Linked DNA regions of Homo sapiens. The protein of the gene in region 1 purifies or fractionates together with the protein of each later gene. This does not show direct contact. Each region holds a gene or a part of one and is shown in the gene's direction. Other genes may lie near its edges. The genes, in order: SSC4D, MOCS1, TMLHE, CYP24A1, LARS2 and TOP3A.

The links.
Region 2: the proteins of SSC4D (region 1) and MOCS1 purify together in Homo sapiens (affinity purification with mass spectrometry; one large-scale study listed by BioGRID and IntAct). This does not show direct contact.
Region 3: the proteins of SSC4D (region 1) and TMLHE purify together in Homo sapiens (affinity purification with mass spectrometry; one large-scale study listed by BioGRID and IntAct). This does not show direct contact.
Region 4: the proteins of SSC4D (region 1) and CYP24A1 purify together in Homo sapiens (affinity purification with mass spectrometry; one large-scale study listed by BioGRID and IntAct). This does not show direct contact.
Region 5: the proteins of SSC4D (region 1) and LARS2 purify together in Homo sapiens (affinity purification with mass spectrometry; one large-scale study listed by BioGRID and IntAct). This does not show direct contact.
Region 6: the proteins of SSC4D (region 1) and TOP3A purify together in Homo sapiens (affinity purification with mass spectrometry; one large-scale study listed by BioGRID and IntAct). This does not show direct contact.

The regions. Positions count from the first base shown.
Region 1 is NC_000007.14:76,405,995-76,411,666, reverse strand, and holds the start of SSC4D (scavenger receptor cysteine-rich domain-containing group B protein precursor), read left to right. Parts: upstream 1-1,969; 5' UTR 1,970-2,253; intron 2,254-5,672.
Region 2 is NC_000006.12:39,906,317-39,911,326, reverse strand, and holds part of MOCS1 (molybdenum cofactor biosynthesis protein 1), read left to right. Parts: intron 1-1,371; coding exon 1,372-1,492; intron 1,493-2,224; coding exon 2,225-2,272; coding exon of another isoform or gene 2,273-2,280; exon of another isoform or gene 2,281-2,287; intron 2,288-4,209; coding exon 4,210-4,970; 3' UTR 4,971-5,010. UniProt on the Homo sapiens protein: Isoform MOCS1A and isoform MOCS1B probably form a complex that catalyzes the conversion of 5'-GTP to cyclic pyranopterin monophosphate (cPMP).
Region 3 is NC_000023.11:155,493,555-155,498,668, reverse strand, and holds part of TMLHE (trimethyllysine dioxygenase, mitochondrial isoform 1 precursor), read left to right. Parts: intron 1-4,558; exon of another isoform or gene 4,559-5,114. UniProt on the Homo sapiens protein: Converts trimethyllysine (TML) into hydroxytrimethyllysine (HTML).
Region 4 is NC_000020.11:54,163,533-54,168,646, reverse strand, and holds part of CYP24A1 (1,25-dihydroxyvitamin D(3) 24-hydroxylase, mitochondrial isoform 1 precursor), read left to right. Parts: intron 1-2,813; coding exon 2,814-2,905; intron 2,906-4,083; coding exon 4,084-4,195; intron 4,196-5,114.
Region 5 is NC_000003.12:45,516,975-45,522,088, forward strand, and holds part of LARS2 (leucine--tRNA ligase, mitochondrial), read left to right. Parts: intron 1-928; coding exon 929-1,098; intron 1,099-3,244; coding exon 3,245-3,322; intron 3,323-5,114.
Region 6 is NC_000017.11:18,303,880-18,308,993, reverse strand, and holds part of TOP3A (DNA topoisomerase 3-alpha), read left to right. Parts: intron 1-52; coding exon 53-112; intron 113-569; coding exon 570-643; exon of another isoform or gene 644-681; intron 682-1,498; exon of another isoform or gene 1,499-1,521; intron 1,522-2,027; coding exon 2,028-2,103; intron 2,104-3,773; coding exon 3,774-3,882; intron 3,883-5,114. UniProt on the Homo sapiens protein: Releases the supercoiling and torsional tension of DNA introduced during the DNA replication and transcription by transiently cleaving and rejoining one strand of the DNA duplex.

The DNA.
Region 1 (5,672 bases):
CATATCCTCACTAGCATTTGATATCACCAACTATTTTTTTTTCAACCATTCTCATAGGTGGGTGGCAATAACTCATCATCGTTCTTTTTTTTTCCCCTAAAACAGGGTCTCTCTCTGTCACCCAGGCTGGAGTGCAGTGGCACAATCATAGCTCACTGCAGGCTCAACCTCCCAGGCTCAAGTCATCCTCCCACCTCAGCCTTGCAAGTAACTGACTACAGCCCAGTGCGCACCATCATGCCCGGCTATGTTTCTAATTTTTTATAGAGATGGGGTCTCCCTATGTTGCCCAGGCTGGTCTTGAGCTCTTGGTCTCAAGCGATCCTCCTGCCTTTGCTTCCGGAAGTGTTGGGATTACAGGCATGAGCCACTACTCCTGGCCACTGTTTGCTTTAATGGGAAAGACGAGAGCTTGCTTAGGAACCGAAAAATCTGATTGGGAAGGAGCAGCTGAACATGGAAGACAGATAGATGTGCAGATGGAGGGAAAGAGGTCCCTGAGATGACGGAAGGAATGGAATCTGGACTTCAGGGAAGGGGCTTCCCCAGGCCAGGGGAGGAGGGAGGGAGGAAGGACAGGTGCGGGCAGCAGGGGCGTGGAGATTTTGCAGCATGGTGATGGCAGCCTTCCATCAAGTATTTTCTTTTCTTTTTTTTTTTTTTTTTTCTTTTGAGATGGAGTCTTGCTCTGTTGCCCAGGCTGGAGTGCAGTGGTGCGATCTCAGCTCACTGCAACCTCCACCTCCCGGGTTCAGGCGATTCTCCCACCTCAGCCTCTCGAGTAGCTGGGATTACAGGCACCCGCCACCACACCTGACTAATTTTTGTATTTTTAGTAGAGACGGGGTTTCACCATGTCAGCCAGGCTGGTCTCGAACTCCTGACCTCAAGTGATCTGCCCACCTCAGCCTCCCAAAGTGCTGGGATTACAGGTATGAGCCACCTCGCCTGGTACATCTAGTACTTTCTTTTTCCAAGAAATAGGAAACAGCATCATGACCAGGAGTCAGGAAATTAAGTCCTGCCGGGCCCACACTCATGCCACCTGTTTTCCTCCCTTGGCCTCAGTCTTCCCAGCCTCACCATAAAAAGCTGGGACTGGTCCCCAATTTGTTTGATCCTCAGGAGCTTCTCAACATTTTTTTTTTTTGGCCAGTGCAGTGGCTCATGCCTGTAATCCCAACACTTTGGAAGGCTGAGGCAGGAGAATCCCTTGAACTCGGGGAGACGGACGTTGCTGTGAGCTGAGATCACACCATTGCACTCCAGCCTGGGCAACAAGAGCGAAACTCCATCTCAAAAAAAAAAAAAAGAACTACACAAGAAGGCAAAATTAGGCTGGGTGCGGTGGCTCACACCTGTAAACCCAGCACTTTGGGAGGCCGAGGCAGGCGGATCCCTTGAGGTCAGGATTTCAAGGCCATCCTGGCCAACATGGAGAAACCCAGTCTCTACTAAAAATACAAAATTAGCCTGGCATGGTGGTGCATGCCTGTAATCCCAGGTACTCGGGCGCTGAGGCACGAGAATTGATTAAGCCTGGGAGGCGGAGGATGCAGGGAGCCGAAATCGTGCCATTGCACTCCAGCAGCCTGGGTGACAGAGAGAGACTCTGTCTGAAAAAAAAGAAAAAAGAAAAAAAAAGAAGGCAAAATCAGCAGCCCCCAAGTGAGGTTGTGAGGTCCTGTCTATGTGGGAAACCCACTCCATACACTGTGGCTCCTGGGACCATTTCCAAACCCTCAGCTGAGATGTGGGTCGGGACATCATCAGGCGGGACTCCTGGGCTGGATCAGGGCTACCTCCAAAGATCAGGATGCTTGGCTGCCCTGCAAAGGGGTGGAGACCTATCCAGGCCTTCCTGAAACCTGAACCCTGGGGTGGGGGGGCTGTGGGGGGAGGAGGGGCTGCCTGGCCTTGAGAGTCCATGCCTCCCCCAACCACATAGCTCCGCCTCCACCTGGGTGCCCTTTTTCTGGGGCCGCTCCAGCTGGTGCCGGCCACCTCCACTCCCCTTTGCTTCTTGCTGTCCCTAAGGTCGGATGGGGACAGGCTGGGGCCACCAGCCAGCTCCATGGACAGGGACTTTGCCTCTGCTCACCTTCCAGCTGTGGAAAGAAAAGAAGAAACGCCTGTGTTGATTTCCATTTGGAAGATCCTTCCTCCTCCTAAACTTCCAGGGGCAGACAAAGTGATTCGATCTTGGATTGACTGTAGAAGAAGGGACAGAAAGAGCCCAGAACATTCCCCCAGGTATGAATCCTTCACTTTTGCTGGAGTGTTTGTGTGTGTGTGCGTGTGCATGCATGTGTGTGTGTGTGTGTGTGTGTGTGTGTGTGTGTGAGACAGAGAGAGAGAGAGAGAGAGAGGCAACCATTTCCCACTGGTCAGATGGGAAATTGTCCTTGTTAATCTCCCAAGCCCCTTCTGGCTGCTGTTTTCTATGATTCTGTAGCCATCACCTTGATTCAGTCACTCAACAAACATTTCCTGAGTATCCACCCTGTGCCAAGGGCAACCACTGAATGAGATCTGGTTTCCACCCTCAAGGGTCTGCAGTCTCGATGGAGAAACAGTAATGATAACAATAGCTACCACACCTAGAGTGGGCCAGACACTGGGCTAAGCCTTGTGAAAACATTTGCTCATTGAACTTGGCAAAAATGATAAGGGGTAAGTGGATCACGAAAGCCATTTTACAGATGAGAACAGTGAGGCTTTGCAAGGTGAAGGTCATACAGCTAGGAGATGGTGGAGCTGATGCTGCAATATGAACCGCTGTGTTAGGCTGCCGGCTGTACTGTAGAAAATGTAGGCAACAGATGGACTCTGAAAGGGATATGAAGGGATGGGAGGGCTTTCAAGAGCCCTAATCACCAAGGACAGGGAGGGATGAAGCCTTGTCTTGCCAGTGTTCCCTTGGGCGTGAAGCAGGAGCAGACTGGAGGGGCCCACCTTGGAGCTGGGAGGGTAGGAGGCAGGCTTGGCAGAGGGCTCTGGGGTCACCTGGGATTTGAAATCTGTGGGGATCAGGATCGGGGGTCCTTCTCCCTCACGCCTGGGCTGAGGTGGCAGGGGATAGAGGTGGGGAAGCTGAGGATTCCTGGCAGGGTCTCTGGAAGTTGCCTGTCCCCAGGGTGGGGGCTGATCTGGCCTGGGGGGCCAGTATCCCAGCAGCCTGAGAAGTGGGTGGCACTGAGGCCAGGAGGCAAAAGGAGGCCAAGATAACTATGTGCCCCCCCACAACAAGCAAAGACTGGACTGTGTCTTTCCCCCTCCTCATGGTTCTCAGCTCCCATCTCCCAGCTGTCCCCAGTCCAGGCAGAAGGAGGACAAAAGGTGATTATTCCACTGGGGGCTGTCCTGGGCCCCATGAATGGGGTGTTGAAATCCCTGTGTCTGCATCCAGATAGGCTTTCATCTTCTCCCCAACCAGACTTTGTACACCAGGGCACAGGTAAAGCCAGAGAGAGGAGGGGGTTGGAGGGATGGTGGGGAGCTCCTTCTGGGACAAGCACCCATGTCCCCCAGTCCCACTCTCAGTGTAGCCCAAACAGAACCATCCTCTCTACCGCCGCCTCCTACAAAGTCCCCATCAGGGTGGCTGGGAGCCAAATGGATGCTCCTAGCTCCCTGACCCCCAACACCAAGAGTAGCCCAGTCCTGCCAGTTCAGTCTCCCACATATCCTTCGCATCTCTCCTTCCTCTCTGCCTCCTATGGCCTAGAGTCTGGACAACTGCATCAGCCTCTAAACCAGCTTCCCATCTCTCCCCAACCAACCAGTCCACAGTGCACACAATGCATCAGACCCTTGCTAAAAGTCTGCAAGAAAAGGGGACGTGAGAGAGGCTTCTGGGACACTGGTTACATGGTGTGAATGCTCTTTGAGCTCTAAGCTCATGGTTTATGCACTTTTTTTTTCTTTTTAGTTAGAGACAGGGTCTTACTCTGTCATTCAAGTTGGAGTGCAGTGGCATGATCATGGCTAACTGCAGCCTTGAACTCCTGGGCTCAAGTGATCCTCCTGCCTTAGCCTCCCAAAGCACTGGGATTACAGGCATGCACCACCATGCCCAGCTAATTGTTTTTTAGTTTTGTAGAGATGGGGTCTCACTATGTTGCCTAGGCCGGTCTTGAAATCCTGGGCTCAAGAGATACTCCCTCAATTAGCTGGGCGTGGTGATACCCGCCTGTAATCCCAGCTACTCAGGAGGCTGGGGCAGGAGAATCGCTTGAACCTGGAAGGTGGAGGGTGCAGTGAGCCGAGATTGTGCCACTGCACTCCAGCCTGGGCGACAAGGCGAGACTCTGTCTCAAAAAAAAAAAGAGATCCTCCCGCCTCAGCTTCCCAAAGTGCTCACAGGAGTAAGCTGCCACACTTGGCCTAGAGTTAATTTAAATCAGGGCCAAGCCTGGTGGCTCACACCTGTAATTCCAGCACTTTGGGAGACCGAGGCGGGTGTATCACTTGAGGTCAGGAGTTCCAGACCAGCCAGGTCAACATGGGGAAACCCCGTCTCTACTGAACATACAAAAATTAGCCGAGTATGGTGGCACATGCCAGTAATCCCAGCTACTCGGGAGGCTGAGGCAGAAGAATTCCTTGAACCCAGGAGGTGGAGGTTGCAGTGAGCTGAGATCAGGCCACTGCACTACAGCCTGGGTGACAGAGGGAGGCTCTGTCTCCAAAAATAAATAAATAAATAAATAATTTAAATCAGAAGAAATGTGCCAATAAAATGAGAAAAATATTAAGTAAATCATAGTTACCATGACACACAAATACATAAAAAAAGTGAAGGAAGGTCTGAGAGACTAAACGCTGCTTACAATGCTCGGCCCATTTTGGGTGGAAAGGCCTTGAAGATTTTTTTTTTTTTCTGATTTAGGATTGGGGTATTAAAAACAAAAAAAGTGCAAGACAGGAGGATCACTTGAGGCCAGGAGTTTGAGACCAGCCTGAGTAACACAGCACGAGAGCCCATCTCTACTAAAAAGAAAAAAAGAAAAATAATTAGCTGGGTGTGGTGGTGCAAGCCTGCAGTTCCAGCTCCTCAGGAGGCTGAGACGGGAGGATCCTTTGAGCCCAGGATAGGGAGGTTGCAGTGAGCCATGATCATGCCACTGCACTGCCGCCTGGGTGACAGAGTGAGACCCTATCTGTAAAAAATAAAAAATAAAAAAATTCTTTAAAGTAAAAAAAATTAATTAATTAATTTGAAAGGGAGACTATATTGTTCTGATAAACGGAAAACCAGAGTCCTTTTTAGAAGGCATTGTACAATTTAAAAAGAATTATTGAAAATAAAACAATACATGAGTATCTATATCCTCCCAAATTAAGTGGGTTGCTGTCCGTGGCACCAATACTATATTTCGAATGCACAGACCAGGTGCGGTGGCTCATGCCTGTAATCCCAGCACTTTGGGAGGCTGAGGCGCGTGGATCACCTGAGGTCAGGAGTTCAAGACCAGCCTGGCCAACATGGCGAAAACCCATCTCTACAAAAAATGAGCCGGGCGTGGTGGCGGGTGCCTGTAATCCCAGCTACTCAGGAGGCTGAGGCAGGAGAATCGCTTGAACCCGGGAGGCAGAGTTTGCAGTGAACGGAGATCGCACCATTGCATTCCAGCCTGGACGACAGAGCGAGACTCCATCAAAGAAAGAAA
Region 2 (5,010 bases), on another chromosome or scaffold:
TTGTGGGAGGGTGATGATGGTGGGTTGGGTTTAGATGCATGCAGTTTGAATCCAAAAGGAACCATCCAGCAGGTTGCTGAAAAGCTTGGGGGTTTTTCTGGGCTGGAGATACGGAATTGACTTGGACTAGAGGTGGTATCTGTATCTGTGAGGTCTTGGCAGGAAATGGAAGGTGGGATTCTGAAGAGAATGTAATGAAGAAGCTATTTATAACATATAAGATTAAGGGAACCAATAAAGGATATTGAGGTACTTGGGACCAGCAGCAGCAAAGTGCTGTTCCCACTTAGGAAGGGCAAGGGGGAGGCACTGATGTCACTGGGGCCCAGGAAGGGCTGGAGCCTTAGAAGAGAGGCCACCTCATTGGCACTTGAGCTGTGCAGAGAAGCAGCTGCTGCCAGATACATCAAAGCAGGGAGGAAGTAGGGGAGAAATGCCTGAAGATTGTTCTTTCCCTTTACCCATTGATCTCCCAGGCAGGAGCCAGCTGGGGGGCGGGAGGGGAGGGTGGTACCAGGTGAAGTCCACAGGAGGAACCTCTTTGTTGCAGAGAAGGGAACCTGGAGGCTGGTTGGGGAGCGAGGCATGAGGAATAACAGGCACGCTGAAGCAGTTAGACCTATCCTAGATTTCACTGGTATCTTCTCCAGTGGTCTCTGCCTGCAGAAGCTTCTCAGACATTCTTCTTTCTCTGTGGCCACAGTGCCTTGTGCAGAGCTGGCACAGAGTAGATGCTTCATAAGTTTTGGTGGAAGGATGGTAGGTATATTGATTTCTGGGGCTGTCTCATCCATCCCTCTTACAGAAGCTGAGAAGCATTGAGTGAAGTTTGACCTTAAGTTGTCATGCCCAGCAGCCCTCAGCTGAAGCTTCCAAGCAGTGATCACAGACTCAAATAGGTACAGGGCAGTCAGGTGATGTCCACAAGGGACTTGGAGGGGCTGAGGTGAAATGGGATGTGTGTGCCACAACAGGGGTAGGAGACTTCCAGGACACACACAGCTCCAACTGGTTGGGGGCCATTCTCATGGTGATAAAGTGGCCATTCCAGCAAGTGTCTCAGAAGGTAGAGATCTGGATTTTTACATGCTATCTCTGTTGGCATCTACTTAGTTTTTTAAAAATACACTGAGGGAAGTATGACTGTAACTCACATATAGGTATTGGGAAGTCGAATTTTGCCTCTTGCTCTTCTAGCCTCTCTGACCTCCCTACAGCACCTCTGTCTCTCACTGCTAGGGGCCCTGCCATGGGAGGCCTGGGCCCTGGTGCTCCTCCCGGAGGGAGAACCAGGGAAGGAGTTAGCTCCTCAGAGGCCAGGAGGCCAAGGCTCAGGGGTAAGGAAGGCATATTGTCCTCACCCACATGTAGGTCTGCCTCTTTGGAAACTCTGAGGTATCCCTGCGGGATCACCTGCGAGCTGGGGCCTCTGAGCAGGAGCTGCTGAGAATCATTGGGGCTGCTGTGGGCAGGAAGAAGCGGCAGCATGCAGGTAAGTGCAGGGTGGGGAGGGCTGGCCTGGATGGTGAGTGGGCCTTGTCCCTGGGAGGGAGGTGTGGAGTTGTGGGGTGAGATGACCAAGGAACACCTAGGGGGAAGCTGGCGAGAGTCAGCATCATCCCCACTACCACTCACTGCTGTTGGCCCTCTGGACTCAGGGTACAGTGATGCTTCTCCTTCCATGGGGAAAAGTCATAGCAGAGGCTGCACAGGAGAGGGGACCCCAGATTCTCTTGGGCTGTTTTACTAGGTGGGGAGAAGGGGGTGTCATTGCTTCTTTCTCATCCCACACGTGGCCTTCTGTTTAGGGAGGGCAGGGTCCTGATGTCCACAGACTGTTCTTTGGGCTCAGCCTTGAGCGACCTCGCAGTGCACATGTGGGGGCCTTTTGTCATACAGCTGAGTGCATGTGCTCGGGGCTGTCAAGCGCGTTTGTTTCAGTGAACTCTCCTCTCCCCGCCCTGTCCCTCTCCCGCTCCCCTGCTTTCCTCTCCCTCTCCCCTTCCCCTGCTTTCCTCTCCCTCTCCCCCTCCCCCTCCCCTGCTTTCCTCTCCCTCTCCCCCTCCCCCTCCCCTGCTTTCCTCTCCCTCTCCCCTCCCCCTCCCCTGCTTTCCTCTCCCTCTCCCCTTCCCCTGCTTTCCTCTCCCTCTCCCCCTCCCCTGCTTTCCTCTCCCTCTCCCCCTCCCCTGCTTTCCTCTCCCTCCCCATCTTTCCCTCACCCCAGGCATGTTCAGTATTTCCCAGATGAAGAACCGGCCCATGATCCTCATCGGTGGGTGACCCATCAGTACGTAACCACTCACCCTTGTCATTTGGGGATCTCGTGGGGTGGGAGCCGTGCCATAGGCACCCCCAGCTCCTGCATTTCATGCTGATTTCTCATCCTTGTTTTTCTTCTATTCCTCCTTCATCTCTTCTTAACCTTCAAGGTTTTACTGTTTCTTCCCCCACTGTTCATGATCCCCCTTACTATACCTGCCACAGAAATGATCCTTCTGTCTCACCAGACATCAGAGCAGGGGGATGGTCTGCCAGATTTAATGATCACTAAGTTAGTGGCTCCCTGAGAATTGAAATCCTGGTTAAAACAGAGGCCTTTTCCTCGGCTCTAAAATCTCCCATTTGGATAATGTGACAGGTGTCCTCTGTAGTACCCAATGATCCATGCACGGTGTATCTGGACCATGAGCCCCCACGGGTGGATGTGTGGCCAGACGTCTGTGCTGGGCAGATCTTGAGGCAGCAAGTTAATAATGTTACTCACATGTAACATGAGGTAATGATGGCCAAGACCTCAACTTCCCAATTCCTTAACTCTCAGGAACATCTGCATAGGATGTATCATCGTGTGTGTAGGATGCTTCAAACAAAAGCCCCCTGGTTTTAAGTCCTTATGTGGTCTCCTACCCCTGGGGGCTGGGCTGGTCACTGAGGAGCTGTAGGGTGGCTGTTGCCCCTCTGTCACGGTGCCCAGATTATAGCAGGTGAGGCCTTGACCCTTTGCTCGCAGTCAGTTCTGAGCCCCCTGAACTGTGCCACTAGGAAAGAAAAAGCAGGGGGGAGAAAAGATGAGAGGAAAGATCCTTTCTTTAGAGGTTAGAGCAGAGGGAACTCAGTGGCCCAGAGGGGAAGGCAGGCTAGAGACAGCCCAAGGACCATCTTTGCCCACTGGCTGCCCGGGAAAGCAAAGGTAGCTTGCCACTGGGAAGAAGACTCTCATCTCCTCTCCTCCCACCCCCAGCATCCAAGTCCTCTTGTTGGGCCCTGACCCATGCTGAGGCACCTTCATGGCCTTGATGGCATCTCCCCAGAAGGGAGGCTGCCCCTCTGACATTGACATGTCTGGGGCTTAGAGTATGATGCGAAGTGGGAAGCTGGGGGAGCATTTGCCTCATACTTTCAGAGATATTGAGTAACCAGTCTGCTTTCTATACAACCAAGAGTTGCCTAGGACAGGGCCTCTCAGAATTTCATGTGCATGTGAATCACTGGGGATTTTGTCCTTTTGGATTGACTTGGAAGGTCTGGGGTGGGATTCTGCATCTCTTGTGAGTTCTCAGGTGGTGCTGGTGCTGCTGGTGCTGCTGGTCCATAAGCCAACCACCCTTTGAGTAACAAGAGCCTGCACCATTCCCTAGGCCCTCTGCACCATCTGAATTAGCCCGTCAGTTTGTATGTGCTTCTCATGTGCTTCAGGGGACTTGAAAAACATTTAAGTAGATCACAAATTCCCCTTATTATCTTGTCTGTAAACTAAGTGGTTATATTAACTCTTCATGGAGAATGTGAAGATAAAAATAGGTGTAATTGGTAATTTAGAGTGAGACCTAGCTCTAGTTTTAAGAAAATGAAGGGACATTCAGAGGTCATGTGATCCAGGCCTCAACTTGGTGCTGCTTGAGAGAACTTGGGAATTGAGAAGGTTTTCATGTGGAGGGAACCCTGTGCCACGGTGGCACAGCAGTTTCTAGGAGGGCTGTTACCCTGTACATCACTGGGTGAGAAGGGCTGTGAACTTGGACTCTGGGTGCCATCTATCTGTGGATCTTCTACTTTGTCTTGTCCCACTATGCTTTTTGTTCTTCATTCCTCTTTCCCCGGTATGAAAGAGAACTTGAGGTGGGATAGGGAGAGGGTTGGGGAGTAGAGGTGGGAAAAAGAATTGCCTTTTGGACTTAGTGTTTCTTCTCTTTTCTTCTTGCCTTGCAGAGTTATTTTTGATGTTCCCCAATTCCCCACCAGCCAATCCAAGCATTTTCTCCTGGGACCCGCTCCATGTTCAGGGTCTAAGACCCAGAATGAGTTTCTCCAGCCAGGTGGCCACTTTATGGAAAGGATGCAGGGTCCCCCAGACCCCTCCTCTAGCCCAGCAGCGGCTGGGGTCTGGCTCCTTTCAGAGACACTACACTTCCCGTGCAGACTCAGATGCCAACTCAAAGTGCCTTAGCCCAGGTTCCTGGGCTTCTGCTGCCCCCTCAGGACCCCAGCTAACCTCAGAACAACTAACTCATGTGGACTCGGAAGGACGGGCAGCTATGGTAGATGTGGGCAGGAAGCCAGACACAGAGCGGGTGGCTGTGGCTTCAGCCGTGGTCCTCCTGGGACCGGTAGCCTTCAAGCTTGTCCAGCAGAACCAGCTCAAGAAAGGAGATGCCCTAGTGGTGGCCCAGCTGGCTGGAGTCCAGGCAGCCAAGGTGACCAGCCAGCTGATCCCTCTGTGCCACCACGTGGCCCTGAGCCACATCCAGGTGCAGCTGGAGCTGGACAGCACACGCCATGCCGTGAAGATCCAGGCATCTTGCCGGGCTCGGGGCCCCACCGGGGTGGAGATGGAGGCCCTGACCTCTGCTGCAGTGGCCGCCCTCACCCTGTATGACATGTGCAAGGCTGTCAGCAGGGACATCGTGTTGGAGGAGATCAAGCTCATTAGCAAGACTGGTGGTCAGCGGGGGGACTTCCATCGGGCTTAGCACCTGCCCTTCTCACCCATGGCCCACCCAGGCCTGGAGC
Region 3 (5,114 bases), on another chromosome or scaffold:
GCTGTGGATGCAAGTCCCAGAGTCCAAAAGTGGAAGAAACTGGAGTCTGATGTCCAAGGACAGGAGGAGGAAAGAAATCTGGCTGCAGAAGGGAGATAGGATGAGCAGAGAGAGAGAATTCCTCCTCTTCTGTCTATTTGTCCCAACCAGGCTCCCAGCTAACAGGACAGTGCACGCCCGCATTGAAAGTGGATCTTACCTGTTGCAGTCCACTGTCTCACACACCAAGCTCCCCTGGAAACACTCTCACCGACACACCCAGGGAACAATGTTTCAACAGCCGTCTTGGCATCCCTCAATCCAGTCAAGCTGACTCGTAAATTGAACCATCACAATGAGAGTGCAGGTATCTCTCCAACATACTGATTTCATTTCCTTTTAAAATACCCAGTAGTGAGTTCTTTGGATCATATGCTAGTTCTATTTTTAATTTTTTGAGGAACCTCAGTACTGTTGTCCATATTGCCTGTACTAGTTTACATTCCCATCAACAATGTATAAGATTTCCCCTTTCTACACATCTTCACCAGCATTTGTTGTTTCTTTAACATAAAGAGTGTAAAATCACTTTATTAGAAAGTTTAACTAATCAGTCACAAATGAACAGCATTTTTGAGCACTAAACAGAGGATTAAAATAATTTCCAAACACTAGAGAAAATTATTGAAAATTCTAATATTTTAGGCTTAAAATATCATTACCCTCATGAAAGCAAAAATCCTATAGATGATATTTTCTAATATATATATATATTCTAAGTACTATGAAATTATAATAGAAATCATCAATTAAAGTGTAACAAGTAATATCTAACCACGGGCAAATTTCTTTTAAGATCACTTTATTATATTTTATGTTATTAAATTAAATTTTGATTTTTTTAATTATTATGGGTAAATAATAGTTGTATATATTTATGGAGTGCATGTGATGTTTTGATACAGGCATACAATATGTAATGATCAAATCAGGATAATTGAGGTATCTATCATTTCAAGCCTTTATTATTTCTTTGTGTTAGGAACACTCCAGTTCTACTCTCTTAGTTATTTTTAAATATACAATAAGTTATTGTTAACTATAGTTGCCTTATTGTGCTGCCAAATACTAGATCTTATTCATTCTCTCTGTGTTTGTACATACTAACCATCCTTACTTTCAGCCTATTTTTTGTCTTTTTAATGATAGCCATTGTAACTGGGGTGAGGTGATATTGTGGTTTTGATTTGCATTTCCCTAATGATTAGTGATGTGGAGCATTTAAAAATATACCCATTTGCCATTTGTCTGCCTTCTTTGGAGAAATGTCTATTCAGAACTTTTGTCCATTTTTAAGGGAATATGTCTTTTTTGGTTATTGAGTTTGAGTTCCTTATATACTCCGGGTATTAATCTCTTGTAGATGCATAGTTTGCAAACATTTTCTCACATTCTGTGAGTTATCTCTTCACTCCGTTGATTGACTGTTTCTTAGAAATTTTCAAATTACGATACATTGTTATTAACTATAGTCATCACATGGAAAAATAGATCACTTGAACTTATTTCTCTGATCTAAAATTATGTATCCTCTGAGCAACATATCCCCAACCACCCAACCACTACTCCACAACCCACCAGCCTCTAGTACCCACCATTCTGCTCTCTATTTCTATGATATCAACTTTTTTTTTACATTACACATATGAGTGAGATCATGCAGTATTGATATTTCTGTGCCTGGCTTATTTTCACTTAATGTTCTCCAGGTTCATCCATGTTGTCACAAATGACAGGACTTTCTTCTTTTTCAAGGATGAATAGTATTCCACTTTTTATGCATACCACATTTTCTCTATATACACTCCCATGTATTCTGCCTAGATTGATTTTATATCTTGGCTATTGTGAATATTTCTGCAAAGAACATGGAAGATATCTCTCGGACATACTGATTTCATTTCCTTTGGGTATATACCCAGTGGTGAGATTGCTGGATGATGTAGTAGTTCTACTTTTAGCTTTTTTTAGAAACCTCCGTATTGTTTTCCATAATGGCTGCACTAATTCACATTCCCACCAACAGTGTGCAAGGGTTCACTTATCTCCACATCCTCATCAACATTGTTATCTTTTGTCTTTTTAATAATAGCCATCCTAAGGCGTATGAGATGATATCCCGTGGTGGTTTTAATTTGAATTTATCTGATTACTAGTGATGTTGAGCACTTTTTCATATACCTCTTGGCCATTTGTATGTCTTCTTTTGAGAAATGTCTATCCAGATCCTTTGCCCATTTTTAAATCAGGTTATTTGTTTTCTTACTATTGAGTTGTTTGAGTTCCTCAAATATTTTAGATATTAACCCCTTATCAGATGTATAGTTTGCAAATACTTTCTCCCATTCTGCAGGTTGTCTCTTCATTCTTTTGTTTCCTTTGCTGTGCAGAAGCTTTTCAGTTTGATGCAATTTCATTTACCTAGTTTTTCTTCCGTTGCTTATACTTTTGGATCATATCCAAAAGGTAATTGTATAGACCAATATCATAGAGTTATACCATGTGTTTTCTTCTAGTAGATTTACGGTGTCAGGTCTTACATGTAAGCGTTTAATCCATTTCTAGTTGATTTTTGTATATGTTGTAAGAAAAGGGTCTAATTTCATTCTTCTGCATGTGGACATCCAGTTTCCCCAGCACCGTTTATTGAATGTATAAGAGTTCTTTTCTCTCCACATACTTGCCAACGTCTGTCATTTTTGGTCTTTGTAATAACAGCCATTCTACAATGGCCATATTCCCATACTGTGGGTTGTTTCTTCACTCTGTTGATTGTTTCCCTTGCCTCACAGAAACTCTTTAGTTTAATCCAGTCTCATTTGTCTATTTCTGGGTTTTGTTTCCTGTGCTTTTGGGGAATAAAATCTTTTCCCAGAGCATTATCCTGGAGAGTCATCCCGAGGTTTTCTTCTAGCATTTTTATAATTTCTATAGCTCCTCCAAGGTCACACACCTGAACTGAGATTGTAATGGTGATCTAACTGAAAGCCTATTTATCTACCTATCTGAAAGCCCACCAGCTTTCACTTACACCACAATACACAAATCCATCAAATGCATCGTCTGCTCAATTATGGAGCTCTCTTGGGAAATACTTGTCTGTCAACTAAGAAGAAGGATAACTTTGTTAAATCTTCCTAGCTTTTCTTGTCAGATAAATGCCTGCTTTATTTGCTTTCCCCTACTCCCACGTCTCTCTTGCTTCATATCAAAGCAGGAAAAAAAGGAAAAACTGCACAATAATATGATGGCATCACTTTGTGCCAAAGTCCAGAAATAGTCTTATTCTAATCCAAAGTATTGCACAACCATTTTGCTTATGTGTAATAGACTTTTCCTGCTACTTTCTCTGTTGGCTTTAGAAAACACCACCATCTAATATAAATAGTGAATACCAAATTCCATGTAAGCTTGGACAAATCACAAGGTCTTATCATTATTTTCCTTATCTATAAAGTAAGACAATAACAGCTGTACTACTTACCTCACGTGGTTATCATGCAGAGGGTCAATCAGATAGTGTATATGGAAACATTTCTAAACTGCAAATCTCAGTTTGAAGTCAAAAGATTGTAAGTGTGATCTGTAAAAATGTTGCTCTCATGAACAAGCGTACACAGGAATTACGATCATTTTTCTGTTCTCTGGTATAAACAATGAGTTAAAGAATTAAGGACACCTGATTTCAAAACCTCTCTGCTACGTATGAACTCTGTGGCAGGTCTCTAAGTTTCAGTTGCCTTAAATGTAAAAGGAGGTTAATAACACCTTTCCTTCTGGGATGATGAAATAAGTAAATTAAATAATATTTTCACAAATGCCTAACCCAGCACTAGAAGTTTCTGGAAATGACAATGGGTGTCAACAGCCTGGTGAAGACTGTGCTTCCTCACTCCATTCTCCCTCCAGGCATGGCTCCTTGAAGCCTGGGAGGATGGACTATTATATTCTTTTTCTTTCTTTCTTTCTTTCTTTTTTTTTTTTTCTTTGAGACAGAGTCTCGCTCTGTCGCCCAGGCTGGAGTGCAGTGGCGCGATCTTGGCTCACTGCAGCGTCCGCCACCCAGGTTCAAGTGATTCTCCTGCCTCAGTCTCCCAAGTAGCTGGGACTACAGGCGCGTGCCACCGCGCCTGGCTAATTTTTTTGTTGTTTTGTTTTGTTTGTATTTTTAGTAGAGATGGGGTTTCGCCATGTTGGCCAGGCTGGTCTTGAACTCCTGGCCTCAGGTGATCTGACCGCTTTGGCCTCCCAAAGTGCTGGGATTACAGGCGTGAGCCATCGCGCCCGGCCTATTTTTGCATTTGATTCTTGCAGTAGCCCTGTGAGATCAGCTAAGCAGATGTTATTATGCTCATTTTATATGCAACAAAACTAAGAATGTTGGCTCTGATTGTGCCATGTACTATCTAACACTAAGGAATATTGCCTGAGATATCCAAAAATGGCACCATTGGATGTTAATTTATCTTTGGAAAGAATATCTTTGGCAGTATCTAGTAAATCTGAGCATACACATACCTTATGATCCATAAGTTCCATTCTTAAGTTTATTTCAAATAGGAGTGAATATATTTGTTCACCAAAAGACATGTAATAGAATGTTCATAACAGCACTGTTTGTAGTAGTTCCAAACCGGAAATTACTCATATGTCCATCAACAGTAGAATGGATAAACTGTGGTGTGATCACGCACTCAACTTCCATATAGCACCAATAAACTATTGCTAAGCAATGATGAAACTCCTAAACATAATATTAAATGAAAGAAGCCAGACACAAAATGAATACATATTGTGATTGCAATTATATAAAGTTTTATATAAACAGGCAAAACTAATCTTTGGTGATAGAAGTCAGGATGGTAGTTACCCGTGGGTTGGGGGATGGGCGTTACTGGAAAGGGGCATAAGGGAGGGTTCTGGGGTTCTGGTAATGATCTGTTTATTGACCTGGGTGCTAGTGATATGGATGCGATTACATCATGAAAATTCATCAAGCTTACGATTTGTGTACTTTTTCCGTAATGTATAGTATACTTCAGTAAAAAGTTAATTTGCCTTAGGCAAAACAGAAA
Region 4 (5,114 bases), on another chromosome or scaffold:
GGGGCAAGTCTTTTTTAGTAAGAAGACATTTGAGGTAAGTCCTAAAGGAAGGGAAGGAGCAAATCATGAGGGTACCTGTGGAGGATTGTTCCAGGCAGCAGAGAAGAAAGTGCAAATGCCAGGAGGTGGAAGCATGAGCGCCGAGTTTGAGGAACTTCAAGCTGCTGGTGTGAGTGGATCACGATGAACAAGCTGGGAGGAAGGGGAGCCTGTGAAAGGAGATGAGGTCAAAAAGAAGGCAGGTGTCCAACAGGGCACAGCTCATAGGTCCTGGCAAGACTTTACCTCTCATCTGACTCAGATGGGGCAAGTAAGGGAGGGAGGACATGACCGCTTTCTTCAAAGATTACTCTGGAAATAAAGGGCAGAGCTCACTGCCCATGGGGGTGCAAGAGGAGAGCAGGCAGCTGTGATCAGGTGGGACAGCGCCTGGCTGAGGACATTCAGGGCTGTGGGAGAATCTGAGAGGGCCACCTAAGCCGGACATGGCCAGGGGTCGCTTCACAGAGATGGTGCCCCTCAGCTAAGTCCTGATGGTTGAGTAGGAGTTCACCAGGTGAAAAGGGAGGAAGGAGAGTGTCCCTGCAGAAGAAGTGCGGAATGACAAGCATATCCTGTAACAGAGGCTGGCAGAGGGCCAGCAGCCAGCTCATGGAGGGCTGTATGAGCGGGAGTTTGAATTTTAGCCTGTAAGTAACCGGGAGCTGCGGGAATGTATTCAGCAGCAGTGTGATATATGGGCAGATTTACTGGGAGGATCACTGTGGCTGCTGATGGGAGGGATAGAAGGAAAACCTATAACACTTCCATAAATTCAAGGTCAGAAATATTGCCATAAATAGATAAATATAAGTAACTTTTTTTAATTACTTATTTGAGACAGACTCTCACTCTGCCCCAGGCTGGAGTGCAGCGGCGTGATCTCGGCTCACTGCAACCTCCACCTCCTGGGTTCAAGCGATTCTCCTGCCTCAGCATCCTGAGCAGCTGGGACTACAGGTGCACACCACCATGCCTGGCTGATTTTTGTGTTTTTTAGTACAGATGGGGTTTCACCATGTTGCCCAGGCTGGTCTCGAACTGCTGACCTCAGGTGATCCACTTACCTCAGCCTCCCAAAGTGCTGGTATTGCAGGCGTGCGATACCACGCCTGACTAACTTTTGTGTTTTTTAAGTAGAGATGGGGTTTTGCCACCGGTTGGTCTCAAACTCCTGACCTCAGATGATGCTCCCACCTCCACCTCTGAGAGTGCTGGGATTACAAGCATGAGCCATTGTGCCCAGCAGAGTAACTAATTATTTTTAAAGTTCATGTACCATCCAGAGCTATCTCACATATTCCCAGTGGTGTACCTGCCAACCACTGTGGAACACAAATACGGGGAAACCTTGAAAGGCTGGGAAGAAATAAGTAGAGTTTGGAAAACATGGAGGTAGTTGGAAAAGCTGTGGGTGGGTGCTGACTAAGCTAATTGACTCTCACTCCTCAGGTTTATGATTTTAGGCCATTTGTTTACCTTTTTAATGCTAGTCTCCTACTTTATAAGTCAAGAGCCAATTATCCACCACTAAAAAGTTGGTTGCAGTAATCCTGTATAATTTTTTTTTTCCAGACTGTGTCACTCAGGCTAGGGTGCAGTGGCCAGTGGTATGATCTCGGCCCACTGCAACCTCGGCCTCCTGGGCCCAAGAGATCTTCCCACCTCAGCCTCCAGAGTAGCTGGAACTACAGGCACATGTAGCCATGCCTGAATAATTTTTTTATTTTTATTTTTTTGTAGAGACAGCGTTTTGCCATGTTGCCCAGGCTATTCTCGAACTCCTGGGCTCAAGCAGTCTGCCTGCCCGAGCCTCCTGAAGTGTTGGGATTACAGGTGTGAACCACCACGCTCGGCCCTGTGTCCTTTTTTTAAAAAAAAAAGGTTACAAGAGATAATTTTTAGGACAATGGGGAACATTTTAAAATGGGACACAGTAGATTTTTTATGGAATGGTCGCTAAGGTTCTTAGGGATGTTAATGACATTGTGGTTATGTTGGAGAATGCTTTATTCTTAGGACATTACTGCTAAAGTATTTAACGGTGAAGTGACCTGAGAGCTCAAAATTATTTTCAGATGCTTCAGCACACACAACCACGTATACACTTGTATGCATACATACACACAAAGAGAAAGAAATGGCAGCAAGATGTTGATGAGTTCGGGGGATTCAGGTATTCATTTTACCATTCCTTCAACTTTTCTCTAGGTAAAAAGTTTTGAAATGAAGAGTTGAGAATTTTATTTGTAAAAAGGTTCCTTCTAAATAAAATGATGAAATGGAAGGAAAAAAAACCCTATATGAAGTGCTAGCCCAGTACCTGGCGTGTAATGGGTGTTTAGAACATAATTATTCCCTTCCCTTCTCTTCCTCTGGTGAATGGCTTCCAATTCATTATGTCAGGAGATAGAATCCAATAAGTGACTCTAAAAACACAGCTGGGTTAGAGGCAGAGTGCAGACCCGACCCTGCAGCACCTTTGCTAGGGCCCCTGGATCTCCTGTGTGACTTGATCAGGACAGTGGATCTCTGATCATGACACTCTGAGGTGATGAGTCATTGGACCTGGAGATAATTTCTAGAAAAAGAAAGTGATGGTGTCCCCTTTCTCTCAGACTCTGCTTTTCCTCAATATTCTTGGACTGTTGCCTTTTCTCAGAAAATCCCACACTTTTAAGAGGCATAGAATTGAGTCTTTAATAACCAGCTAAACATAGACTCCAACTCCAGCATTGCTGTTTGTGTAAAGTGATGATTATTTTAAATGACAGGTATCTGCCTCGTGTTGTATGAGAAGAGATTTGGGCTTCTCCAGAAGAATGCAGGGGATGAAGCTGTGAACTTCATCATGGCCATCAAAACAGTAAGCAGCCTCTTTAAGAAAGCAGTTTTCTTGATTGATGTTTTACAGATCGATTTTTACAGAACTTCACAGTGATTCCCAAAAAATGGCATACACACATATTTTATTTCAATAGTTAAGTGTTCATTTTAATGTGCATTATATATTTTAGTATATTTATGTGCATATATGCGGCTGTCTCCAACCTTTTTGGCACCAGGGACCAGTTTCGTGGAAGACAATTTTTCCATGGACAGGGCAGGGTGGTGGGGCAGGGGAGGGAGGATCATTTAAGTGCATTACGTTTACTGTGCACTTTATTTCTGTTATTATTATATACTCACCATAATGTAGAATCAGTGGGAGCCCTGAGCTTGTTTTCGTGCAACACGAAAGTCCCATCTGGGGGTGATGGGAGACAGTGACAGATCATCAGGCATTAGATTCTCATAAGGAGTGTGGAACATAGATTCCTCGCATAGGCAATTCACAATAGGGTTCACACTCCTGTAAGAATCTAATGCAGCCATTGATCTGAGAGGAGGCAGAGCTCAGGTGGTAACACCTGCTGGCCCGCTGATCACCTCCTGCTGCGCGGCCCCGTTCCTAACAGGCCACTGACCAGTACTGGTTCACGGCCTGGGGGTTGGGGACCCCTGGATATATGCACGTAACATAAAGAAGCACATTAAATCCATTATTTCTTTGTTTAGGCAAGGTTAAAATAGCTATTTTAATTAAAGATCAGTTGATTAAAAATACTTTTTAAAAAGAGCCCAAAATTTTTCAGATTTTATCTTTTTGAATAGTTTGGGTGGCGTGTAGATAGGATAAACGCTGTGAAATTGGTTTGGAAATCACTGAAGTTTGGAAATTATTAGAAATTGAAGTGAATATGAAAGTTATCGTTTTTCCTCTTTTTTTTTTTTTTTTTACAATTAGGTCATAAGATTACAATTTTTATCAAACACATCCAGTGGAAAATCATCCCCCACATTACCTTCAATATTGAAAGGAGGTGGAGGTGGGGTACGGGCATTGCTCCCAGGACCGGTGCAGAGAGAGCCGGGGGTGTCCTTGTAATTCCAGCCTTTTAAAAAGTGCAGGGTGCTGCGGTTTAGAATGTTCCTCTTCCAGAACGAACATTGTCTTTGAGAGAAGGAGAATTCAGAATAAAAAGGCATTTGCATTTCTCTCAGATGATGAGCACGTTTGGGAGGATGATGGTCACTCCAGTCGAGCTGCACAAGAGCCTCAACACCAAGGTCTGGCAGGACCACACTCTGGCCTGGGACACCATTTTCAAATCAGGTAAAGGGCCGCCCTTCACAACCAGCCAGAACCAGCCCAGCACCCCCGTGTCTGGAGCTTCAGAGAGGAGGTCTGGAGTGATCTCCTGAGCCTCATCACCACATTTAGGTTTTGCAAACACAGGTGTTTTGGGGATTGCCCCAGCATACACAAATTCTAAGTAACAAGCTTTCTGTAGTCTTCTTTGGGAATTAAGAGTGGTTAAAAGTAAAATCTGGCCAGGTGCAGTGGCTCACCCCTGTAATCCCAGCACTTTGGGTGGCCCAGGCGAGCAGATCACTTGAGGCCAGGAGTTTGAGATCAGCCCGGTCAACACGGTGAAACCCAGTCTCTACTACAAATACAAAAATTAGCTGGGCGTGGTGGTGGGCACCTGTAATCCCAGCTACTCAGGAGGCTGAGGCAGGAGAATTGCTTGAACCTGGGAGGCGGAGGTTGCAGTGAGCCAAGACTGAGCCACTGCACTCCATCTTGGGAGGCAGAGTGAGACTCCATCTCAAAATAAAAAAGTAAAATTTATAGAGTCAGGGACTCCTGAGTTCAAGTTCAGCTCTGTCACTGGTTGTGGTGGCTTGGCCAAATGTGCAATCACCTTTTCATCCTCAGTTGCCTTGTCTCTAAAATGGACTAATAATTAATAATAATAATAAGAGAACCTACCTCAATGTAACTGTTTCTGGGTCTACTACAGATTACAGTTAACATAAAAACCTGGCATATCACAGTATCTCCGTGGACTAGATCTATTTCTGCCACATGACGAAGGGGAATATTTGATGCTAGGCATTGTTCACTTACACATTTAGTTAATCCTCACAACACACCTATAAGGTAGGTCCTTTTATTAGCCCTGAGAGGGGTACCTGAGACACATAGAAGTTAGCCAACGTTCCCAAGATTGCATGCTAGGTGATGGCAA
Region 5 (5,114 bases), on another chromosome or scaffold:
GAAGAGGAAGTCAGATGCCTGGAAACTTGAGCCTTGTGTGAAGTATCCATGTCATTTGAGAAATCACTGTTTATTTTGATTTCCAACTAGCTGTGGCTAGTGGGAAGTGTGGTCTGGAACAGTGGTCACAGATGCCAGTCCTAGAACTAGCTGCCTCAGAATCACTGGGGGGCTTGCAAAGCACAGACAGGTGGAGGTTCTGGCTCCCACCCCTAACCCAGGGGACAGGCTCCAGGAATCTTTCTAAGAAGCCTCCCAGAAGGTTCTGCTGTGCATTCAGGCTTGAGAATGCCTAGCCTAGTGGCCAGACAGTACAAGGACCTGGACTGACCCTAATTTGGCTACTGGTATAACCCAGGGCCACCAGGTAAAGCCATTCAGCTTTACCAGAAGATCAGACCAGCAGCTGGATTGGATGAGCTTGTGTAAAATATGGAAAACACACATACCTGCAAGGACAGGGATTGTGCCAATGCACTTCACACTCTACAGCAGTGTGGCTGCAAGCACAGTCATGCTATCCACAAGGTAAGAGCTTGCACCAGCAGGAGTCAGCACTGTCTCCAAAGCACCATGTTAACTCCATGGCATTTTTGTCCCAGCAAGCTTGCTTAATCAAGGCGGCGGGGCACCAGGGCTCATCTTGACCAAGCTTCTGAGCTCATGACCGTTGGTGGGTGGCACTTTGAGTGGCCCTGCCATCCAGTGCTCTGAATCTGGGCACTAAAATGAGATAGAATTGGTCCTGGTCTGAATTCTCAGACACTGAAGGCCAGGGAGGATCCTTCAGCCTGCCCTCAGAGGAATCCATCAGGGTGCAGTGAAGTGTCACATCAATTCACAGGTGTTTTTCTCTGCTTAGTTATACCAAGTCAATCACCCTTATGTTGCACGCTCTCTCTTTCTCATTTACTGATGCTGAATTCAGCTGATGCTCTCCCTGGGGTGCTGAGATGGCAACAACGACTGTGGACCTTGACAACTCGGTTTATTGAGGCCAGGGCTTCTGGGAAGTCTCCCCAGCCTCAGCTGCTGAGTAACAAGGAGAAAGCTGAGGCCAGGAAGCTCTGGGAGTACAAGAACTCCGTCATCTCTCAGGTCAGAAACTCTCCAATTCCAGGGGTTAACTCTGTAACCAAGCACTCTTTGGGAACCTTTGCCTGTGGTCTTTGCTGCCCTCCCTGCCTTGGGTTGGGCCACTGTGGGTCTTCCTTCCTGGCAATGGCGGTCCTTCTTGCTTTGATTGATTGGCCCTACTGTTTTGGGTACTTTACCAAGGTGGATCAACAGTGCATATGTTCTAATGGAAAGAGATGCCCCCAGGAAATGGCTCTCTGATGATGTCTCACATTTGTCCATCCTGGGTCTCAGGAAGCTGCCACTTTCCATGTTTCCACATTTAACACATCCAAGCAGAGAACCAAATCCAGGATCACCCTGTCATCCAGGATGACACCGCATATGTTACATTAACAGAAATACAATTTTAGAGTTGGAAGGGGCATTAAGAAACTATCCTCTGTAGCCTCCTCATTGTACAGATGGGGACAGAGATGATGTCCAGATATCTTGCCTAACGTCACACGGCTAGTGAGGAACTGAGCAGAGATTAGAATCCCAGTCCTCCACATAGTGAGGACTTTCCCACTCAGTTACTTTGTTACACAATATCCATGTGAACTATTGTGGGTTAATTTCTGCAAATCTGAAGTCATTGTAATGGGTATCTGATATCCCAAATTCTTCTTAAGCTGATTTAAAAAAAAAAAAGTTATGCTGATTCAGACATAAAGTTAATCAGTGTCGCTCATCTGCACTCTGATAATGAACACAATGATGCATGGCAGGTTTTTGCCTCTCTGGTTTGTATAACCTGAAGTGGCCCTGGGTCCAGCATGGTCTTATTTGTTGACACTTCTTCAGCTTTATTTCTGGCCTCTGTACCCTCTCTATGTGGAGGAACAGAGCTCCCTGAATGAATGTAGGGGTCTGAGTGATGCCTGAGCGATTGAGTTCATACCACATATTTTCTCCCTGGATTTGGCAAATTCTTCTATTCTGTCAGATAAAAGAATTAGGTTATTTCAACAAGTTGGAAACTCTTGACATCCTTAAAGATGTGTTACTTTTCTGTATTCTTGCCTATAGTCAAAATGGAAAAGCACAGAAACATGAAAAAGCTGACAAGCTGTGTTAATGTTCTTATGTTGACTGTACATTTCAAAATGTAAAATTGACAAGGCGCAGTGGCTCACACCTATAATCCCAGCACTTTGGGAGGCCAAGGCGGGCAGATCACAAGATCAAGAGATTGAGACCATCCTGGCTAACATGGTGAAACCCCGTTTCTACTAAAAACACAAAAAATTAGCCTGGCGTGGTGGCACGCGCCTGTAATCCCAGCTACTCGGGAGGCTGAAGCAGGAGAATCACTTGAACCTGGGAGGCAGAGGTTGCAGTGAGCTGAGATCGCACCACTGCACTCCAACTTGGGTGACAAAGCGAGTCTCCGTCTCAAAAAAAAAAAAAAAAGTAAAATTAACCTTATCCCATATTCTAAAAACCGTCACTGTGAAGCAAAGTCACATAACCAAGCAGAAGTGGCATCCTTTATTCCTGTTTTCTGTTATGTTGAGTTTACCCATCAGTGGGTCCTGCGTCCTATTCATGTTACTAGCATTGCTTTTTTTTTTGACAAAGTCTCACTCTGTTGCCCAGGCTGGAGTGCAATGGCGCAATCTCAGCTCACTGCAGGCTCCACCTCCCAGGTTCAAGAGATTCTCCTGCCTCAGCCTCCCAAGTAGCTGGGATTACAGGTATGCGCCACCACACCCGGCTAATTTTTTGTATTTTTGTAGAAATGGGGTTTTGCCACATTGGCCAGGCTGGTCTCGAACTCTTGACCTCAAGTAATCCACCCACCTCGGCCTTCCAAAGTGCTAGGATTACAGGTGTGAGCCACTGTGCCCAGCCACTAGCACTGTTTTTCTAAGCACCTACTATGAGAACCAACAGTATCCCAGATATGTGGAAGAATAGTCTTAAACAGTGGAAACAGTGTTGACTTTGAATTTTAAAATATTTGTGTAGATGAAACATAGCGATTATTTGAGATAGTAGATATATTTATAAATATCTTTGCATCCCATTCATTTTCCTTTTTTTTTGTTTTGATAATTCAGTCTTTTTGTGGAAAGCTTAAAAGAATTTTGAAATAAGTAAATAATTGAACCTTTACTAATAGGTGACCACCCATTTCACAGAGGACTTCTCACTGAATTCTGCAATTTCTCAGCTGATGGGACTCAGCAATGCCCTCTCGGTAAGTGGCCTGTCCTCATTTGCTGGTAGCAGAGGAGGGAGGGAGAGGTGTGGCAAGGGGCCCCACAGGGTCCCAAGAGGGACAGAGAGCACCCCCACTGTGTCACCGCCTCAGTGTGGCTTGATTATCTTAAGGAAACATTTTTCCATAGTCACAACCTAGTTTTATGCTGGAATGTTCTTAAAGATTTTCTGGTCCAAACCCCCTTCTCCCCCAATATTTTACAGATGAGGACATTGAGGCCCAGGGAAGTTAGATGACATGTCTGGTTGATTAGTGACAAATCTAGGACCAGACTCAGGCCTCCCTGTCTTCTGGCTCTTTGCACCCCCGCTGTCTGATTTCATGAATGAATTGTGATACCTCCTCGGCATCATTACATTTGATATTCATTTAACCTGGATGGATCAGGATCGTTCTCACCAATGCCAAAAGTCAGCCTTTTCAGTATGGACTTCCTTCTTGCTAAGTGTGACTACCATTTTTCTTGCCAGGGAAAGGATTTGTCAACAAATGTTCTTAGCTACTGGACAACAAAAGCATTCATTAAAGCTATTAACAAATGCTTTTTAAAAATGAAGTCCTCTCCAAGCTTTTAAGATCAGTGGGGGCCAGGCACAGTGGCTCATGCCTGTAATCTCAACGCTTTGGAAGACCAAGCTGAGAGGATCACTTGAGGCCAGGAGTTCAAGACCTGCCTGGGCCGCGTAGAAAATAAAATAATTAGGCCAGGCATGGTGGCTCACACCTGTAATCCCAGCACTTTGGGAGGCTGAGGCAGGCGGATCACGAGGTCAGGAGATCAAGACCATCCTGGCTAACACAGTGAAACCCCATCTCTACTAAAAAATACAAAAAATTAGCCAGGCGTGGTGGCAGGCACCAGTAGTCCCAGCTACTCAGGAGGCTGAGGCAGGAGAATGGTGTGAACCCAGGTGGCGGAGCATGCAGTGAGCCAAGATCACGCCACTGCACTTCAGCCTGGGCGACAAAGCAAGACTCCGCCTCAAAAACAAAGTAAAAAAATAAAATAATTAGCCTGGCATGGTGGCATACAGCTGTAGCTGTAGCTACTCGGGAAGCTGAGGCGAGAGGATCGCTTGAACCCATCCTGGGCAACAGAGCAGGAGACTCTGTCTCTAAAAATAAAATTAAAAGGGTAATTTTTAAAAAGTAAAATAAAGATAAAAAAGAACAATGGAAGAAATTTCAAATTTGACTACATAAAACTTGACATTTTCAGTATGTTAAAAAAATTTATAACATGTCAGACAGAAGGTTAATATCCTTGTAAAGCACTCTTACATATTAATATGAAAATACCTAACCAAAAATGGTCAAAGCATATGAAAAGATAATAACTCATAGAAAATGTTATAGAAATAGCCAATACATTTGTGGAGAAAAAAAAGTCTGCCTCTCTAATTATCATGAAAGGCAAATTTAAAACAAGATGCTTTTGTTTTTGTTTTTGTTTTTTTTTAAATACCTGTCAAATTTGCTGAGAATACTTTAACGTAACTATTCAGGGCCAGGCACAGTGGCTCATGCCTGTAATTCCAGCACTTTGGGAGGCCGAGGCAGCAGGATCGATTGAGCTCAGGAGTTTGAGACCAGCCTGGGCAACATAACAAGACTTCATCTGTAAAAAATTTAAAAATTAGCCAAGTGTGGTGGCATGCACCTGTAGTTCTAGCTACTCAGGAGGCTGAGGCGGGAGGATCCCTTGAGCCCAGGAATTTGAGGTTGCAGTGAGCTGTTTGGTGCCACTGTACTCTAGCCTGGGTGACAA
Region 6 (5,114 bases), on another chromosome or scaffold:
AATCCATTGTTTTAAACGTAATTTATATTTTTTACTTATTTTTGTTTTATAGAGAGAAGGACTTTCAAAATTCAACAAGATCTATGAATTTGATTATCATCTGTATGGCCAGGTAGGTGCTAAAATATTTCTAAAATATTTCAATCATAAGCAAGAGAAAGTAGTCAGCCTCGTCATATGTAGAATATGTCGCTGTCTTAAGAATAACAACTGTTAACAACCTAAAGGTTCCTGGATATGGGGTGATCACTTTATAATTTATGAGGAGTTCTCTTTTTAATAAAATATGGTCCCATCTCAGCTCTTCATTACAAAAAAAAAAAGCTAATATACAATAGTTTGAGGAAAATTTAACTGATGCAAGAGGCGTCAGTTATACACCATATCATTAGAATGGTGATTGTATTCCTGTGACTTTTGGCTTTGAAGAGCTTATATTTATGTTTATTTCTTCCCAATCAGGTTTTTAAAAATGTCTTTAATAGAAGCTCCTCCCTCTCATTTTAATGATTTGGCAGAATAATAACTGCAAAAAGACTAACTGAATTTTGAATTTTGTCATCATTCAGAATGTTACCATGGTAATGACTTCAGTTTCTGGACATTTACTGGCTCATGATTTCCAGATGCAGTTTCGAAAATGGTCAGTACAATTCTCAAGGGAAGGACTTTCAGATTATAGTAAGTTGTGAAATTTCACAGGAATTTTGAGGCATGTTGATCTTACTGGGTAATTTTTTTTTTTTTTTTTTTTTTTTTTTTTTTTTTTTGTTGGAGACAAAGTTTCAGAGTGAGACTCTGTCTCCCAGGCTGGAGTGCAGTGGTGTGATCTCGGCTCACAGCAACCTCTGCCTCCTGGGTTCGAGTGATTCTCCTGCCTCACCCTCCCGAGTAGCTGGGACTATAGGCACGTGCCACCACACCTGGCTAGTTTTTGTATTTTTAGTAGAGACAGGGTTTCACCATGTTGACCAGGCTGGTCTCGAACTCCTGACCTCAGGTGGTCTGCCCACCTCAGCCTCCTGAAGTGCTGGGATTACAGACCGTGAGCCACCATGCCCGGTTTTTTTTTTTTTTTTTTTTTGAGTCAGGGTCTCGCTGCGTTACCCAGGCTGGAGTGCAGTGGCGCAATCTCGTCTCACTGCAACCTCCGCCTCCTGGGTTCAAGCGATTCTCATGCCTCAGTTTCCCAAGTAACTGGCCTTACAGCCATGTGCCACTACACCCAGCTAATTTTTTCTATTTTAGTAGAGATGGAGTTTCACCCTGTTGCCCAGGCTGGTCTTAAACAAAGCAGGGTTTGCCTTCTTTTGCCTCCCAAAGTGCTAGGATTACAGGCGTGAGCCACTGTGCCTTGGTAATTTATTTATTTATTTATTTATTTTATTTATTTTTTGAGACGGAGTTTTATTCTGTCGCCTAGGCTGGAGTGCAGTGGCACAATCTTGACTCATTGTAACCTCCACCTCCCGGGTTCAAGCGATTCTCCTGCCTCAGACTCCCGAGTAGCTGGGACTACAGGTGCCTGCCACCACGCTTGGCTAATTTTTCGTATTTTTAGTAGAGACGGGGTTTCACCGTGTTAGCCAGGCTAGTCTCGATCTCCTGACCTCGTGATCCACCCACCTTGGCCTCCCAACGTGCTGGGATTACAGGCGTGAGCTACCACGCCCAGCAGTAATTTATAATACTAAGATGACCTAGGATTATCTGATCCATTGTGAATTTTTATTAAATCTTTAAACAGTCACTTTTGGTGTTCCTCAAAATTGCCAGACCTTTTTCATGCAGCCATTGGATTGCATTTACCTGTGAAAGGGCTCCAGAATGCCATCTTATCAGTCCTGTTCACACTCTTGGAGAAGTGGACAGTGTGTCATGCAGAGGGTCATAGCCTTACTTTCAATTCACCGGGACCTTTTCTTTTGGGGATACACCATGAACCCATTGGAACAGTTTGCTGTCATTAGATTGGAGGGCTCTCTGTCATGTACTGAGTTGGGACTCTGTTTTCATTTCTTTTCTAGGCAGAGCTGCAACCCTCTTGTCCTCTTTGAAGCAGAAATTGAAAAGTACTGCCCAGAGAATTTTGTAGACATCAAGGTAGGGTCTTTTGGAAGACATATGGCACTGAGTCAAACCACAGAGTCAAACAGAGTGATTTCTTTGTTTTTAATGCATTGGCATTTGGAGATAAGGTTTTCCACCAAAGTCACTACCATGATTTAAAAAGCTGGTTCCCACCCATTGTATAAATGTGGCTAAGTGGCCAAGGGACTGAAGTAAACTTTTTTTATGAATGGTAGTTGTTTAAATCCTAGGAATAAAGGCTGGACATGGTGGTTTATGCCTGTAATCCCAGCAATTTGTGGGGCCAAGGCAGGATCACATGAACTCCAGGAATTTGAGACCAGCCTGGGCAACATAGTGAGACCCTATCTCTCAAAAAAAAAAAAAAATTTAACCAGGCATGGTGATGTATGCCTATAGTCCCAGCTACTAGTAAGGCTGAGGAAGGAGGATTACTTGATCCCAGGAGGCAGGAGGTTGAGGCTGCAGTGAGCCGTAATCACACCACCACACTCCAGCCTGGTGAGAAAGTGAGACCCTATCAAAAAATAATCCTAAGTATTGTAAATTATTAGCGCGTAGCCCCCATCTCACCCCTTGTTAGATGAAAGAGGCTACAAAGTATAAATGCCTGTTTGACAGTAAATTGCCAGTTGTCAAGCAGTCAGGGCATGTATAGTTAATTTATTTTTAATTTTTATTTATTTATTTATTTATTTTTTGAGACGAAGTCTCGCTCTTGTCCCCCAGGCTGGAGTATGATGGTGCAATCTCAGCTCACTGCAACCTCTGCCTCCAGGTTCAAGCGATTCTCTTGCCTTAGCCTCTCAAGTAGCTGAGATTACAGGCGCCTGCCACCACACCCGGCTAATTTGTGCATTTTTAACAGAGATGGGGTTTCACCATGTTGGCCAGGCTGGTCTCGAACTCCTGACCTCACGTGATCCACCCGCCTCAGCCTCCTAAAGTTTTGGGATTACAGGTGTGAGCCACCGAGCCTGGCCAGTTAATTTATTGAGAACTGATAAAACTTTGGATGAAATTCAATTGGGATTCATTTTGTTTTGTTTTGTTTTGTTTTGTTTTGAGATGGAGTCTTGCTCTGTCACCCAGGCTGGACTGCAGTGGTGCGATCTCGACTCACTGCAAGCTGCGCCTCCCGGGTTCATGCCATTCTCCTGCCTCAGCTTCCCGAGTAGCTGGGACTACAGGTGCCTGCCACCATGCCCGGCTAATTTTTTGTATTTTTAGTAGAGACAGGGTTTCACCGTGTTAACCAGGATGGTCTCGATCTCCTGACCTCGTGATCCACCCACCTCGGCCTCCCAAAGTGCTGGGATTACAGGCGTGAGCCACCACGCCCAGCCGGCTTCGTTTTTTTTAACTAGGTCATAATCAGAACCTCTCGAAGTGTGCGTGCGCGCGCGCGCGCGCGCGTGTGTGTGTGTTAGAGCTGAATTTCAGGTTTTGTCATATTGGGGAAGTTATATTAAACCCTCTATTCTAGAAACTCGTTTATGGTTCTAAGGGGTTGTATCATGATTAGCACCAATGAGAGCAGTTTTCTCTGTTCTCTTTCCCTTGCCAAGTTGTCACACTCCAAGAGCAGCATTAACCTTCAGTCAGATCCCCTTAGCTTAGAGATGTCAAGTCACTGTTGTGCAATTCTGTTCTCACCACTCTTATTCCACTGCGAACTTAAGAAAACTTTGGAACGAGAGACTCGCCAGTGCCAGGCTCTGGTGATCTGGACTGACTGTGATAGAGAAGGCGAAAACATCGGGTTTGAGATTATCCACGTGTGTAAGGCTGGTAAGTGCTGCTGCTGCTGCTGACTTTCTCTACTTTGGAACTCCATAAATAGAGTGTTCTTGTTTATATGTGCACATGGGCCACGGATGAGGTCCTCTGCAGGTACTCTCCCTCCCAGTCTGTGAGTCCCACCAGCCATGTGTCCTGGAGCAAATCACTGAGCCATTGGGAGCCTCAACTTCCTTGTCTCTAACATCAGGCCAATCTGACATGTTTCCTGGGACTGCCACAGAGATTAGATGAGTTAATGAGTGGTGTAAACCATTTAGCCCAGGACTCATTTCTTGTTAGGTACAAGCATACAAGCAGATACCCGGCTCCTTGAGAACAGGGACTTTATATTCTTTTTGTTGTTGTTGTTGTTGTTATATATTGAATTCTTTTAGTATTTGGTTAATGGAAGCAAAAATAGAAAAATAAAATTACATATTGAATATGTATAAAAGAATGAATATACCACAAGTAAAGTACAAAAAATAATTATAAAATGTTCTGTTTTCTTTTTTAATCTCTCATATTATACAATGCTCGACTATTAATAAATAATTGTTGCAGTGGATTTAAAGGCTCTAACAGTGTTAATGGTTTTGGGTAACTTAGAGGGAGTGATGAACAGGCCATTCTCTGGCTCAGAGGGTGGGGTTGCTACTTTCCTTTAGTGGTTTTGTGTTCAAAGCTGTAATGACTCCTGGAAATTTAAGTGCATTAACTTTCAAGGACAGTGTGTATATGTCCTATATTCTTTGCTGAAGGGACATGAAATTCCCCTACAGAACCCTTTAATTGACAATATTTTTCTTTTCTCAAAAGGCCTGAGAGAGCAAGTAAGATTAAAGTTGCAAAAGGCAGCCAGGCACGGTGGCTCATGCCTGTAATCCCAGCACTTTGGGAGGCTGAGGCAGGTGGATCTCCTGAGGTCAGGTGTTCAAGACCAGCCTGGTCAACATGGTGAAACCCTGTCTCTACTAAAAATACAAAAATTAGCCAGGTGTGGTGGCGGGCGCCTGTAGTCCCAGCTACTCAGGAGACCAAGGCAGGAGAATTGCTTGAACCCAGGAAGCAGAGGTTGCAGTGAGCCGAGATTGCACCACTGCACTCCAGCCTGGGTGACAGAGTGAGACTGTCTCCAAAAAAAAAATGTTCACCAAGAGCATTTTAGTATTTTAGTTATTGGAGGGGGCCTGCCCCTCCACACCTGTGGGTATTTCTCACAAGGTGGAGACGAGAGACTG